2 separate regions of the Homo sapiens genome follow, and region 2 is linked to region 1. The links come from fine-mapping of genetic effects on gene expression. Tissue or cell type: unexposed skin. Region 1 holds a variant in brackets; the other region holds the start of a gene. All regions are shown on one strand. Distances are from middle to middle.

Region 1 (8,348 bases):
AGAATCACTTGAACCCGGGAGGGAGAGGTTGCAGTGAGCCAAGACTGCACCACTGCACTCCAGCCTGGGTAACAGAGCAAGACTCCATCTCAAAATATATAAATAAAATAATAAAGTACCAGTATTTTGGTACATAAAAAAATGGTATAAACTAAACTGATCTTGCAATCTCTATTAATCCATTCATCCCCTCTTAGAAATATAGTTCCACAAGTTGCTCATAGCTTTTCATCTTAAGATGAAAATTAATTTTATTTGTTTGTTATATTTGTAAGTCTATAGTCATTTGATGAGATGAAACGTTTTTAAAACTCAGATTTGGCCGGGCATGGTGGTTTACACCTGTAATCCTAGCACTTTGGGAGGCTGAGGTGGGCAGATAGCTTGAGCCCAGGAGTTCAAGACCAGCCTGGGCAACACAGTGGGACCCCTGTCTACAAAAAATACAAAAATTATCTGGGCATGGTGGTACACACCTGTAGCTCCAGCTACTCAAGAAGCTGAGTTGGGAGGATCACCTGAGTCTGAGGAAACTGAGGCCGCAGTGAGCCACGATCACGCCACTCTACTCTAGCCTGGGTGACAGAGCAAGATCCTGTCTTAAAAATAGATCAATAAATTGGCCGGGTTCGGTGGCTCACGCCTGTAATCCAACACTGGGAGGCCAAGGTGGGTGGATCACTTGAGGTCAGGAGTTCGAGACCAGCCTGACCAACATGGTGAAACCCTGTCTCTACTAAAAATACAAAAAAAAAAAAAAAAAAATCTGGGCATGGTGGTGCATGCTTGTAATACCAGCTACTGGGAGGTTGAGGCAGGAGAATCGCTTCAACCCAGGAGGCAGAGGTTGCAGTGAGCTGAGATGGCGCCATTGCACTCAAGCCTGGGCAACAAGAGTGAAACTCTGTCTCCAAAAAAATAGATAAATAAAATAAAAGTAAATAAATAAATAAAACTCAGATTTGGTTCATACACATCTTCTGCTAGCCCACCCTCAATATCTCCAGTTGCAAGGCATAGGAGGTTCCCCATCTCCTGCCCTACCTCTTCAGCCATCCCTAAGCTCCCCTCACACCTAGCACTTCTGAATATGATTAAAAAGCACATGACAGCCTTCTGCCTTGGTGCCTTTGCTCACTGTGCCCGCTCCCTCTGCACTGTTGGTGTCTGCCTGGTTGGCACCTCTGATCTTTCACTCTCTTTCTATAGCAGCACCTCTTCTATGAAATCCCTCCTGCCTCCTGCCCCTGCCGCCCCAACAGGATAGGTTTCTTCATTTCTATCCCCCTACAAATTTCCATGACACTCCACAGGTGGGGAGTGCCTAAAGGGCCAGAAAATGATTCTCTTTCTTCTAGGCAGATCTCCCTCTCCACCGTGGATTCTGGGCAGCTCCTGTCACTTGCTCTGGCCAGTGAAAAATCAAATATGTTACAGAAGATGCTTTCAAAGTGCATGAGCACTGGGCTTAGTCTCTTGTTGCTTTTCAGAATCCTCCAACTCCCATGTGAAAAAATCCAGGTTAGCCTGCTGGATGATGAGCGACACATGGCCCAGTCACCCACTCCCATCTTACTGGTTGAGCCTACCAACCACCAGATATGGGACTGAGGTCATAAGAAATAGTCCAGCCACCAGCCAAGCTGCCAAATGACCATAAGATACATAAGAGAAATCAGCAGAGATCAGTTGAGCTGGCTCAGAACTATACAACTAATCCTCAGAATCATGAGTTAAATAAAAATGGTTGTTTTAAACTACCAAATTTTGAAGTGTTTGTTACACAGCAAGTGGTAACTGATACACCCTACATAATATTTGATTAAACTTATTCATTTACTTATCTTCCTATTCAATAGTGAGTACCTTGAAAGTAGGAATTTTGTGTTTTATTTATCTTTGGATCCATAGCATCTACCACTGGGTATAGAACATGGTAGGAGCTCAATAAATGTTGAGCTCAATAAGTGTTCATTAGGTCCCTAAGTGAATGAATATAAAAATATTTTACTCAACTAGCTTCCTATTGATTAGGTGGGTTATTATGCAAAGATGAAAGACAGCTCTAATGCTTGCTACTTTTCTCCTAAATTTCTAGATTTTATTTCCTACACAAGATCTAAGAAATTGAGGGAGAATAGTCTCAGTGATTTTGGTAGTGCTTTTGGCCACCCTGCTCCATGTCACTGGGTGTTCCAATGTCATTGGCCAGGGACACCACAGGAAAAGCTGCTGCAGTCATTGGTGCATTGGCTTAGAAAGTTCATTTCTCCACTTGCCTCCTTCAGACCCCTGGACCCTTCCCAAATACCAGCTCCCCTCAGTTCGCAAGTGCTTCGAGTTGGTGCCATTGACCTTGACTCAGACCCAGCCACTCCATAGAGCACTGCTGCCATCTGTCCCACAGACCATGGAGAGGACTTGAGGCAACAAGTCACGATGTTTGGCCCTGCAGTGCCTCCAATCAAGCCTTTGGCTATTTGGCCCAGCTCGTTAGGACAGGGAAATGGGTCACCCCCTTTCAGACTCTCTCAATTTTACTAACTTAAAGAGATGTCAGAAGCAACAAACCCTTGTTTTGAAAATGAGTGATTTTGTTTATCTTTTTTTTTTTTTTTTTTGAGACAGGGTCTCACTCTGTCACCTAGGCTGGAATACAATGGTGCCATCATAGCTCACTGAAACCTTGACTTGCCAGGCTCAGATGATTCTCTCACCTCAGCCTCCCGAGTAGATGGGATTACAGGGGCACACCACTACATCTGGCTGATTTTTGTATTTTTTATAGTAGAGATGGGGTTTCACTGTGTTGCCCAGGCTGGTCTCGAACTCCTGAGCTCAAGTGATCCACCGGCCTCAGCCTCCCAAAGTGCTGGGATTACAGGCATGAGTCACCTTGCCTGGCTCTTGATTATTTTTATCTTAATCCCTTAGGAGAAAAACAAACTGTTGTTTTGAGTAGTACAGAAATAAGATTTAAGGATATTGCAGGCCGGGCGCGGTGGCTCACGCCTGCAATCCCAGCACTTTGGGAGGCCGAGGCGGGTGGATCACAAGATCAGGAGTTCAAGACAAGCCTGGCCCAAATGGTGAAACCCCATCTCTACTAAATATATACAAAAATTAGCTGGGTGTGGTGGCAGGCGCCTGTAATCCCAGCTACTCAGGAGGCTGAGGAAGGAGAAT[C/G]ACTTGAACCCGAGAGGTGGAGGTTGCGGTGAGCCAATATCATGCCACTGCACTCCAGCCTGGGTGACAGAATAAGGCTCCGTTTCAAAAAAAAAAGAAAAAAAGAAAAAAAAAAGAATATTACAAAAAGCAGACCAGGCGTGGTGGCTCATGCCTGTAATCCCAGCACTTTGGGAGGCTGAGGCGGGCAGATCACAAGGTCAGGAGTTCGAGACCACCCTGGCTAACACAGTGAAACTCCGTTTCTACTAAATACAAAACAATTAGCCGGGCGTGGTGGCGGGCGCCTGTAGTCCCAGCTACTTGGGAGGCTGAGGCAAGAGAATGGTGTGAACCCGGGAGGCAGAGCTTGCAGTGAGCTGAGATAGCACCACTGCAGTCCAGCCTGGGCGACAGAGCGAGATTCCGTCTCAAAAAAAAAAAAAAAAAAGAATATTGCAAAAAGCTTTGAATTTCGATGTGATTAGTTCAAGTGGAGTTTTATTCCTTCATGAAGGTTGCTGAACACATTTTTTTTTAAGGACCTGCTATGGGTCATACTGATATCGTATTGCTTGGTCAGTCCTAAGACTTCTGTTTTACTGTGAATGCTGGTCAGCTGTACCTGAATTCCAAAGGGAGGTGAGTAATGAGGCATTCCCCATCCTCCCCCTTTCTTATTATGGCCTGAGCTAGAATTTCAGATGAACTCTGGAGTGCCCTTGGCCAAAAGGAGCAGTCCATTCAGTCGGTTGGGGGACTTAGAATTTTATTTTTGGTTTCCAGTGTTTTTCCCAACCACCAAGTAGCAGACAGCAGCTATGTGCCTTCAATTCAGTCCCCACACTCTCTACCTAGGGATAGCATCAGATCTTGTTGACAAAAAGAGTCAAACTCTGTAAAATATTTGGATAGATTTATTCTGAGCCAAATGTGACAATGGCCCATGACACAGCCTCAGGAAATCCTGAGAACATGTGCCCCCACATTTCTTATTTGAATCTTTACATATGCTAGAACAGATGAACAAAGATGCTTAAGTAATTTTCCTGGCAACATATAAATATAAAGCAAAGCAATGGATGTAGTTTATTGAAAATGTTTGCACTAAGTATGTATTTCCATTGATTAAAAGCCTTGTCTGAGGTGGTTGGCACAAGGGGAAATAGCTAGGCTGTGTTCATCTCAAACATTCAATACATGTAGCATTCAAAACACTTTAATAGTTAACCACCTCTTCCTCCTTGTCTCGGCCCCTCAAAGTGCTGAGATCAAAGGTGCGAACCACCGCATCCAGCCTAAAATCTCCCTTTGATGGATCGCATTAACTATTTAAAAACGTTTTCTCTAATATATGCTACTTATCTAAATCACAGTCTCCAGATTTAGAGAATTCTATTCAAAGAGAAGGGTGTCCCCATAGCCTTACATAGCAAATAGCAAGATTAGACCTCTAAGAATTTCAACTAATTAAATTATTAACTATAAAATAGCCGGGTGTGGTGGCTCACGCCTGCAATCCCAGCACTTTGGGAGGCGGGTGGATCACGAGGTCAAGAGTTCAAGACCAGCCTGGCCAAGATGGTGAAACCCCGTCTCTACTAAAAATACAATAATTAGCAGGGTGTGGTGGCAGGTACCGGTAATCCCAGCTACTCGGGAGGCTGAGGCAGGGGAATTGCTTGAACCCAGGTGGCAGAGGCTGCAGTGAGTGGAGATCACACCACTACACTCCAGCCTAGGCGACAGAGTGAGACTCCATCTCAAAGAAACAAACAAACAAACAAAAAAACTTAAAATTAGCCAAGTGTGGTGGCACATGCCTGTAATCTCAGCTACTCAGGGGGCTGAGGCAGGAGAATCGCTTGAACCTGGGAGGCAGAGGCTGCAGTGAGCCGAGATTGCGCCACTGCACTCCAGCCTGGGCAACAGAGTGAGTCTCTCTCAAAAAATTTAAAAAGGGAGATTTTAGATAAATATTTTCTTCCTTTAATAACACTGATATCCAAAACCTCTTTAAAGATACAATCTTGCCGAGCGCAGTGGCTCACGCCTATAATCCTAGTGCTTTGGGAGGCCGAGGCGGGCAGACCGTGAGGTCAGGAGTTTGAGACCAGCCTGGCCAACATGGTGAAACCCCATCTCTACTGAAAATACAAAAAGTAGCTGGGCATGGTGGTGGGTGCCTGTAATCCCAGCTATTCAGGGGGCTGAGGCAGGAGAACTGCTTGAACCCAGGAGGTGGAGGTTGCAGTGAGACGAGATCAGGCCACTGCATTCCAGCCTGGGAGACTGAGCTAGACTCCGTCTCAAAAATAAAATAAAATAAAAATAAAGATACAATCTTCACTGACTGATACAGCTCCGATGAGTGGAGGAACACCACCAGGGCTCTTGTCTCCCACGAATTGGGTAAAACGACATGGACACACATGGAGTGGTTTTAAGGAGTGGAAAGTTTAATAGGCAAGAAAGAAGGAAGAAGCTCCCCCATTCAGTGACAGTCAGAGGGGACTCCAAATCCAAGAGAGGAGACCCCATGTGCCACAGAAAAGTGGCTGCTTATATGAGTAGGCTGGAGGAGGTGGTGTCTGATTTGCATAGGGCTCAGGGGATTGGTTTGACCAGGGATGTCATTCACCTAGCCAGCAAAAAAACTGGCCCTCCGACCCTAGCCTTTTAATATACAAGGCGTCAGGATGTTGTACCCACGTGGGGATATGTGAGGGCGGCCATATTGTCAGGCACAGGTCAGGGCAAGGGCAAGGAGAAGAGGGCGGAAATCGCCTTGTTTGGCTGGACTCAGTTTCTAATGGCTTGCATTTGCATATCAAAGGTTGCCACTTGGCTCTAAGAGCTGGGGCTTTCCTGCTAGACAAGAAACGTTTCAGCCAGGGGTGGTGGCTCACGCCTGTAATCCCAGCACTTTAGGAGGCTGAGGGGGCTGGATCACCTCTGGTCAGGAGTTCCGACCAGCCTGGCCAACATGGTGAAACCCCGTCTCCACTAAAAATACAAAAAATTAGCCAGGCATGGTGGCGGTTGCCTGTAATCCCAGCTACTCGGGAGGCTGAGGCAGGAGAATCGCTTGAAGCCGGGAGGTGTCGGTTGCAGTGAGCCAAGATCGAACCATTGTACTCCAACCTGGGCCACAGAGCAGGACTCTGTCTCCAAAAAAAAAAAAGTTTATGGAGCTGCTTTAAAAGAAACAACTTTCCAAGGACCCCTTTTCTTCTCTATCTGCCTAAAATAATTTCTTAATAACTCACACAACATTACGATAATTGTTGTCACATGATATAAGCTTCAATTATTTCATAACACTGGTCCTGTCCTTCTTTCAAAACATCATAGCTGACTCAACACTAGATGGGTAAGAAATGCTATATTTTGCTTCCCTGATTCTCAAAACTATAAAAAAGATACAACTTTGAAAAGTTTCATAGAGTAGGCTGGGAAACACTGATGTCACGTTGCAGAAAAATCTAGGCTCTGAAATAACACCACGTCCCACCCAACCCAACCCCACCCTGTTTTCCCTTATCTCTGATAGCTGAGTGATTATGTTAGCAAAAAGCAAGAGGATTTTAAAATTGAATGTGCCTCCCAAGAGCTCTCAGTGTACCAGGGCTGACTTTTAATATTATTAAGGCTGGAGTGGTGGCTCATGCCTGTAATTCCAGCACTTTGGGAGGCTGAGGCAGGCAGATCACAAAGTCAAGAGTTGGAGACCAGCCTGGCCAACATTGTGAAACCTCGTCTCTACTATAAATACAAAAATTAGCCGGGCATGGTGGCGCGTGCTTGTAGTAATAATATAGACTCCGTCGCAAAAACCATACATATATATATATATATAATTTAAATATTAACATTTTAATATTAAAATTTCTGAAGATGATTCAGCTCCTTATAGAAAAGGATCCAAGTAAAGCCAGGCTGTTTTCCACCTCCTATTGGAGGACATCTTAGCAAGACAATAGATTGTTGTGGGGTTTTGGCTCCATAGTTTGGGGAAGTAGCTTAGGATGAATGTTTGGCATCACCCAGTCTTACAGATGGTCACAGCTTGAAAGAGCTTGCTCAGATCCTCGTGCATTCAGGTTCTAGCTGGATGTGGCAGAGCATGATTCAGGCTTTCTTCTTCTCACAAACATTTTCAGATAGATATAGCAGTTTGGCAACCAGGTATTCTATCACAACTGCTTGATAACTGAAAGCCAAACAGCTAGTTCTCTAAGTATGGTTGCCATTTCTCAAGTGCTTGTGAAGCTAGCCCAAAGGAAACTGCAAATCAGCCCTGGTACGCTGAGAGCTCTTGGGAAGAGCATTCATTTTTAAAATCCTTTTGCTTTTGCTAACATAATGGCTAAGCTATCAGAGATAAGGAAAAACAGGGTGGAGTTGGGTTGGGTGGGATGTGGTGTTATTTCAGAGCCTAGATTTTTCTGCAACGTGACATCAGTGTTTCCCAGCCTACTCTATCAAACTTTACAAAGTTGTAGCTTTTTTATAGTTTTGAGAATCAGGGAAGCAAAATATAGCATTTTCTTACCCATCTAGTGTTGAGTCAGCTATGATGCTTTGAAAGAAGGATAGGACCAGGGTTATATAGAACCTAACTAGGGCCCACTTGCCCGGCACGGTAAGACCAGATAACTGCACAATGGTTTGCAGCAGAAGAAAGGAAGATATTTATTTGCAGGGCACCATGCAAGAAGGATGAGGCAGCTAATGCTTAAATCCTGACTTCCTTGATGGCTTGCAGGTGTCAATGAAAAGAGTCAGACTCTGTAAAATATTTAAGGAGGTGTATTCGGAGCCAAATATGAGTGACCAAAGCCCAAGGCAGAGTCTGGAGAGAACTTGTGCCCAAGGTGATTGGATTACAGCTTGGTTTTTATGCATTCTATGGAGACAATAAGACACTAATCAATACGTATGGGGTATACATTGCATTGGTTCCATCCAGAAAGGCAGGACAAAGTCTAAGTGGGTAGGGGGAGGGGAGGGGCATAGGTGGATTTAAAGATTTTCTGATTGACAATTGGTTGAAAGAGTTAAGTTATTGTCTAAAGACCTGGAATCAACAGAAAGAATTGTCTGCATCAAGATAAGGAGTTGCAAGGCCAGGCGCGGTGGCTCGTGCCTGTAATCCCAGCACTTTGGGAGGCCGAGGTGGG
Region 2 (8,000 bases), 27 kb after region 1:
TCTCATAAGCTGTAATTATTTTCTCCACAGCCAAGAAGGATGGAAAGATGAAAGAAGTCCCTGAGGGAGGTGAGAGGATCTGGAGCACAGGTGGAAAGAATAACAAAAGAATAATTTTGACAAAAGCAAGAGGGATGGGGCTGGGCGTGGTGGCTCACGCCTGTAATCCCAGCACTTTGGGAGGCTGAGGCTGGCAGATCACGAGGTCAGGAAATCAAGACCATCCTGGCTAACACAGTGAAACCCTGCCTCTACTAAAAATACAAAAAATTAGCCGGGCGTGGTGGCAGGCGCCTGTAGTCCCAGCTACTCGGGAGGCTGAGGCAGGAGAATCATTTGAACCCGGGAGGCGGAGCTTGCAGTGAGCCGAGACTGCGCCACTGCACTCCAGCCTGGGTGACAGAGCGAGACTCTGTCTCGGAAAAAAAAAAAAAAAAAAAAAAAAAGAAAGCCAATCACTGGGATGACAAGTATTCCCAAGGAAGAAGCCTTTAATTGGGTGCTGCAGCCGAGGAGACAAGGAGACGAGACAGGAGATCAGTCTCAAATCCATCTCCCCGACTGACTAAAACTAGGGGTTTATATAGCAGGGAAGAAATGTAACATGGTGTAAGAAAACAAGAAGAGGGAAGGGCAAGGATGCATCTGGTGAGGTCATCTGTTGAGTTTCAGTTCTTTGATACTTTTTCTGAGAGGCCTGAAGGTCCTTTCCTAAGGAAGAAACTCAGATTAAACAGATACAAGTTTCAAGCTTTAACAGCAGAAGGGTCAATGTCTATGTTTATCCAAAAACAACTGTCTGTGGGACTATTGGGCCAGATTTCATAACTACTGTCTTTCCCAATAATCTATATTATTGTTAAAACAAAACTTTAAGAATGCTTTTGTTCTTGGCTGGGCGTGGTAGCTCACACCTGTAATCCCAGCACTCTGGCTCACGCCTGTAATCCCAGCACTTTGGGATGAGGAGCTCAGGAGTTCGAGACCAGCCTGACCAAAATGGCGAAACCCTGTCTCTACTAAAAATACAAAACTTAGCCCGGCGTGGTGGTGCATGCCTGTAATCCCACGTACTTGGGAGGCTGAGGCAGGAGAATCACTTGAACCCAGGAGGGGGAGGCTGCAGTGAGCTGAGATCTTGCCATTGCACTCCAGGGTGGGGAACAAAGAGAGACTCTCAAAAAAACAAAACAAGGCCAGGTGCGGTGGCTCACACCTTTAATCCCAGCACTTTGGGAGGCCAAGGCAGGTGGATCACCTGAGGTCAGGAGTTCGAGACCAGCCTGGCTAACACAGTGAAACCCCGTCTCTACTACAAATACAAAAAAAAAAAATTAGCCAGGCGTGGTGGCGCGCACCTGTAATCCCAGCTATTCGGAAGCTGAGGCAGGAGAATCGCTTGAACCCAGGAGGTGGAAATTGCAGTGAGCCGAGATCACGCCATTGCACTCCAGCTTGGGCAACAAGAGTGAAACTCCATCTCAAAAAAAAGAAAGAAAAAAGAAAGCTTTCAGGACACCAGGCCATTTCCTGGGTCTGTTGTCTTAGGTCTGTTTGGTAAATATTCTGTGACTAAGCATGCGTAACCTTCTGGGAATACAACCCAGTAGGTCTCAGCCTCCTTTTCCCCATCCCCTATTCAGGATGGATTGGCTTTGGTTAGAATGCCTCTGACCGGATCATGTGGGGAAGAGCAACTGTAGAATAGCTGAGTCCTGGAAAACAGGCCTCAGGGAACAGCAAAGGCTGGGGATGAGGAAAGGACAAAACACCACCTGCTCTGTTGCTGTGCAGGACTGAGCAAGAAGCACAGGATCAAACTCAAAGTTAGTTCCAGTCCTGATTTTGGTGGTAAGACCCAAGGAAAATTCATTAACAAACATTGTGCTGCCAGATACATTAATAAATCCCTAAAAGGGCCTGTAATTCAGTTGAAATGAGTGAGAAAAATCTTAAGGATCCTTATAAATTAAATAAAAACTCCTTGCTCTCAAGCAATCATTTGATTCACTCTATATCAACGACTGTGCACTTTAGCATCACCTGAGGATCTTTAAGAAAGTATCTGTGCTAGGCCTCATTTCCAAGGATTTAATTTGTCTGGGGATGGAGCCCCAGGACATTCCTAGTTTTTGAGGGCTTCCAGGTGATTCTAATGCATAGCCACGGTTGGAAGCCCTGCGCCTATCTCACAGGTGTGTGGGTCTCTACTCTCTGTGTCCGCTTAGTTGCCAGGAGGCAGCAAGTTAGCCCACGTGTGCAAGATGCTTCCTTCCATACCAGGTAGGAATATTGCTCTCTTAAACTTGGAGTGTGCCTGGGCAGAAGCTCTGGAGCCCAATACCTGCATTTTACAAGTCAGATTGCTGCTTTTTGCTCAGTGCCTGTGTGCCTGCATACATGGGTCTCCTGATACTCAGGCACGGCAGATGACTTTCACCTTTGTTTTAGTGTTTTGCTCACTGCTGCATCTGCAGAGCCTAGAATGGTGCCTGGTACACAGCAGGCTCTCAATGTCTTATTAATGAGTTGCCTTTTCCAAGGCTGAAGTGATCGTGGGTGAATTCCAGAAGACCCTGCATCATTTTTATTTATTTATTTATTTAAGACGGAGTCTCGCTCTGTAACCCAGGCTGGAGTGCAGTGGAGAGATCTCAGCTCACTGCAAGCTCCGCCTCCCCCGTTCAAGCAATTCTTCTGCCTCAGCCTCCAGAGTAGCTGGGATTACAGGCAACCACCACTACGCCCGGCTAATTTTTTTGTATTTTTAGTAGAGACGGGGTTTCACCATGTTGGCCAGGCTGATCTCGAACTCCTGACCTCAAGTGATCCGCCCGCCTCGGCCTGGGATCACAGGCGTGTGCCACCGCGCCCGGCCTAGAGGCAATTTTCTATTTCTGACTTGTTAGGCTAGTCAGAGCGAGACGTCTTTACAGGTTTGGGCCGGCAGCTGGAAAAGGCACACGGCCCCGGGCTCCTCCTCCACCCAGCCCCACCCCTCCTCCGCTGAAGACCAGCCCTAATAAGGCAGCCACCAGAATTAGAACCAGGTCAAGTGCACTCCGAGCAGGACAGTAGGCAGATCCTATCTGGCGCATGCGAACGCTTCTGTGCCAGTTCCTTGAAGAGCAGGCGCAGACTCAAGGCTGTTGCTTCCGCCCTTACTCCCCGCCGCTCGTCCCTGGGCGGGGCGAAGGCTGGGCTGGGGGAAGAGGCGTGGCGGCGCTGTGCGCGTGCACAAAAGAGAGCTGAGGGGCGGGGGCGCTGCGGCACAGCTGGTTTGAGCAACTGAACTGGAAACAAGATGCAGGTGAGCTAGGACGGGTCTCGGGTCTGGGGGCTGCGGCCCGTTCCTTTGTCTCGTTAGGCCCGGGCGGGCAGTGGACGCCCGCCCTGGGGGAAGCTCCGGCGCCGCAGGCACGAGGGAGGCCCGGCGCGTCCAGGCCCTGCGCAGGCGCAGTGCGGGAGGCGGGCGTGGTCCCACCAGGACCCACGGCCTGGGCGTCCCCGCCTCGGTGTGCCGGGTCCCCCAAACCTCGTCCTCCGGGACTATGTCTTCTCGCGGTCTCTACCCACCCGGGCCTGTGAAGGTCTTGCCGGATCCCGCCTAACAAAAGTTACCTCCTCTCCTGAACTCCCCTAAGGCACACCTGGGCAGAGGTGTTAGGAAGCGGAGGGTCCGGCCTGGGGTCTTCCGCACGTAAAGCAGCGCCACAGCCGGTGTTCCTGGCTCCACTGAGAGCCAGGTGAGGGCTTAGTTACACCCTCTTCCCCCGAGCCCTGGGATCCGCTTGGGGCGTGTTCCCTATCTGACCGCTCGGGTTCCAGAGCTCCCCGCGAGGGTCCCTCTGTTTCGTCCTTTTTTTTTTTTTTATTAAAATAGGTAAAATAAATTATTTTTCTGTAGCTGCAATTTACTAGCGGAATTTGGTTAAAGCCTAAGGAGAATGAATGAAAACACCATGGAAATGGGCACTATTGTGGGTGAAAACCTATGCCAACTAAATTTTGTCACTGTCCAAAGATCCCGCAGTGGTCAGAAATTCTAATCTCTGCTTAGTGGCAGATGGAGAGGAGAGGGTGCGGGTTTTGCTGGGGAGGGAGGCATTAGGGGCTGGAGGGGAGGGCGTGTCTGCCAGGAGCCAGACACTGTTTTTTTTTTTTTTGAGACCGGGTCTTGCTCTGTTGCCCAGGCTGGAGTGCAGTGGCTCTGTCACAGCTCACTGCAACCTCGACCTCCCGGGGCTAAGCCATCCTCCCTTGTCAGCCTCCGGAGTAGCTGGGACCACAGGCGTGCACCCACCACTCTGGGCTAATTTTTTGTGCAGATGGGGTCTCCCTATGTTGCCCAGCCTCAGCCTCCCAAAGTGTTGGGATTACAGGATGAGCCACCGCACCTGGCCTAGACACTCTTAAATGGTGAAGTGGTAGCTTGAGGGCTGCCCTGGCCTCCTTTGCATTCCCTGTCCTTCAGGTCCCTTGAGGCCTTCCCTGACCACCCTGTAGAAAGGATTCTGCTCTTTTTGTTTGTTTGTTTGTTTGTTTCTTTTTGAGACAGAGTCTTGCTCTGTCGCCCAGGCTGGAGTGCAGTGGCGCGACCTCGGCTCACTGCAAGCTCCGCCTCTCCAGTTCACGCCATTCTCCTGCCTCAGCCTCCTGAGTAGCTGGGACTACAGGCGCCCGTCACCACTCCCGGGTAATTTTTTGTATTTTTAGTAGAGACAAGGTTTCACCATGTTAGCCAGAATTGTCTCGATCTCCTGACCTGGTGATCTGCCCGCCTAGGCCTTCCAAAGTGCTGGGATTATCGGCATGAGCCACCGCGCCCGGCCTCATTTTTCTTTTGATGTATCTCAGAACTGTTACACAGGGTTGGGGTTGGAGACCGATTATCCCGGTGCCCTTTTCACAGTGCTCCTGATTTCATATTCCAAAGCAAGCCTGAGCTCCATTAGCAGTGTTCTTGCCACACCATGCAAACCGGTGCTTGGGCAGCTGGGTTCTAGATCTAAGAGCCACTTTTACATCAGTCTTTGTGACAATGATCCTTTGTGATTTTGATGCTGGCTGATTTGGCCAGCCGTTCTAGCATGGCAGTGCCTCTAAATGCCGTGCCTCTCCTAGGCTTGTGAGGATTCAGGGACAAGGTACAAGAAAAAGGGCTTAGAGTGCCCTGTATTTTATGAGCTACTCTGAGACGTCTCAGCTTTTCCTCTCAGGTTTGGCCATTAGAGAATTCTGTCAGCCAAGCCTCATCTGCAGCCTGAGATCCTCAAAATGTCACAGTCTCTTTGCTCTTGGGCAGTATGCATGCCGCAGGCCGCTCTGCCTGGAAGATTATTTTCTTGATTACGGGCGTGCACCTGGCTAATTTTTGTGTTTTTAGTGGAGATGGGGTTTCACTATACTGGCCAGTCTGGTCTTTTAACTCCTGACCTCAGATGCTCCACCTGCCTTGGCCTCCCAAAGAGCTGGAATTACAGGCGTGAGCCACTCCACCCAGCCTGGAAGATTTTTTTTTTTTTTTTTGAGACAGAGTCTAGCTCTGTCGCCCAGGCTGGAGTGCAGCGGCTCGATCTCGGCTCACTGCAAGCTCCACCTCCCGGGTTCCTGCCACTCTCCTGCCTCAGCCTCCCGAGTAGCTGGGACTACAGGCGCCCGCCACCACGCCCGGCTAATTTTTTGTGTTTTTAGTAAAGACGGGGTTTCATCATGTTAGCCAGGATGCTCTCGATCTCCTGACCTTGTGATCCACCCACCTCTGCCTCCCAAAGTGCTGGGATTACAGGCGTGAGCCACCGTGCCCAGCCTGGAAGATTATTTGTAAGCCCCCAGACTCCTATCACAGATTGCTTTCCACCCTCAGACGGAATGTCACCTCCTCTGTAGGGAACATCCCTATCTACTCTGTGGAATGTGGGTCCTGGGTAATTCTCTAAAATGGCAGCCTGTTTGTCATTGCACTTGCCACAATTTTATCTCTCTATGTATAGTTTGTATATATACTTGTTTGTTGCCTGTCTCTTCCTCTTGTCTGTAACACAGGTGACTCTCGCATTCACCACTCTTCCCCATTGCCTACAATAATTTACATGTGGTAGATACTTCAGTTTTATCTGTTGAATGAATCACTCAGTCATTATTATTATTATTATTTTGAGACTGTGTCTTGCTCTGTCGCCCAGGCTGGAGTGCAGTGGCACGATCTCGGCTCACTGCAAGCTCCGCCTCCCGGGTTTATGCCATTCTCCTGCCTCAGCCTCCCAAGTAGCTGGGACTACAGGTGCCCGCCACCACGCTCGGCTAATTTTTTGTATTTTCAGTAGAGACGGGGTTTCACCGTGTTAGTCAGGATGGTCTCTATCTCCTGACCTCGTGATCCGCCTGCCTCAGCCTCCCAAAGTGCTGGGATTACAGGCGTGAGCCACTGTGCCCGGCACTCTCAGTCATTATTAAAAATATTGAACACATGCCAAGTCAGAGCCTTGGTATCCGTATTGATACTGATCTGCACTCCCTATCCTAATTTTTACCCCAAGAATAGCTCCTCCATTCAGGGAGGGGTAGACAGGAAAAACAAAACGGGGGCTATGGATCTTTTGACACTTTCTCAGAAATAGTTCACAGACTGGTGTGCATTCCTCCCTTCCTGTCACTTTTCCCATTTGGCCCCTTGCCCAACGTGGCACCCTACATACTAGACTTAGCACTCATGGTAACCTTGGTCCCGCTCTTCTAGGACCCCAACGCAGACACTGAATGGAATGACATCTTACGCAAAAAGGGTATCTTACCCCCCAAGGAAAGTCTGAAAGAATTGGAAGAGGAGGCAGAAGAGGAGCAGCGCATCCTCCAGCAGTCAGTGGGTGAGTTCACTCGCTTTCCTCTGCACCTGTCTGGGTTAGGAGATGGCTCCCTAAGCCTCTGACTGCCCTGCCAGGAGACAGGTTGGAGTGCCAGCATGGACACTCTGTGTCTGTGGGACCTCAGACAAAACACAGGGCGTCTCTCACCTTCACCTTCCTGAGCCATAGACTTAGGGGACTTCAGATATGTCCCACAAGTCCTTGTCCATGTCACATGAGCACTGAAGAAAATACTTCTTTCTGCTTTCTGGTCTGTGATTCCCTTTGATAATGTCATGGAAATTTGTTCAAGGTTTTTAGTACTTGTATTTTCCTGAGCATATACTTTATTTTCTGTGGTTTCATTGAGGATATTAACTAAAAATTGCTTCATTTGGGGAGGCATAAGATGTTTGCAATGTGTGGGAGTCTGAGGGGGGTTTTCTCAAAGGCAGTTGTACTGTCTGAATTGGAGTCCCTTGGAGTGCTGGTAACCCCACCCACCTAGTGTTTACTGAAGCAGTCTCTGGAATGAGGCCCAGGAATCTGCATTTTAAACAAGTGCCTTAAAGGATTCTGATGCGTGTCATAGTTTGAGAAGCACTGGTCCCAGGGACTAGTACTTTTGTCCTCTGTTGACACATTAGAGCTAATTTAGAGAAGGATTTATTAGAAAGTATCCAGCGAGTGCTTACTGCATGATTATCATTGTCAGGTGCTTTTCTGGGGTTGGGGATTTAGCTATGCATAAGCCAGAGACAATTCTCTGCCCTCAGAGAACCAACATTCAAGTGGGGGAGACAGACAATAAACAATAAAGAAAATAAGGCAGTAAAAGGGACTAGAAAGGGTTGGAGGAGAAGCAGGCTCAGAGAGGGCCTCACTGAGATGACATTTGCATGGACCTGAAGGAGGTGAAGCTGGCATTTGGGTAAAGACCTGAAGGAGCTGAAGAACACATTTGAATAGACCTGAGGGAGTTGTTGAGACCTGAAGGAGGTGAAGAAGACATCTGGGTATTCCTGAAGGGGGTGACGTGAGCGAGTGAAATATGGGCCCTGGCATGGCTGGGAATCCCTGAGGAGCTGGAGGCGCTGGGGGAGAGAGTTCAGAGCAGCCTCAGCAGACCCAGAAGCTTCTAGTAAGGACCTTGGC

What was found. PIP is the estimated chance that this variant, and not a neighbour inherited with it, causes the effect.
Region 2: it holds the start of PDCL3, and the variant in region 1 is the best candidate, but not a certain one, in a credible set for the expression of PDCL3 in unexposed skin (GTEx, PIP 0.50).

Annotation. Positions count from the first base shown.
Region 1 is chr2:100,532,182-100,540,529 of GRCh38, forward strand. No RefSeq gene overlaps it. Among named protein-coding and RNA genes, the nearest start is that of PDCL3, 27 kb to the right of the region's middle. RefSeq lists an enhancer at 5,652-6,203. The variant C/G (reference allele first, on the strand shown) is at 3,187.
Region 2 is chr2:100,559,764-100,567,763 of GRCh38, forward strand. It overlaps PDCL3 (phosducin like 3), which reads left to right and starts at 3,230. Exons shown (of 6, transcript NM_024065.5): 1 at 3,230-3,310; 2 at 6,740-6,866. The coding sequence starts at 3,305. RefSeq lists an enhancer at 1,975-2,771 and a silencer at 3,217-3,556.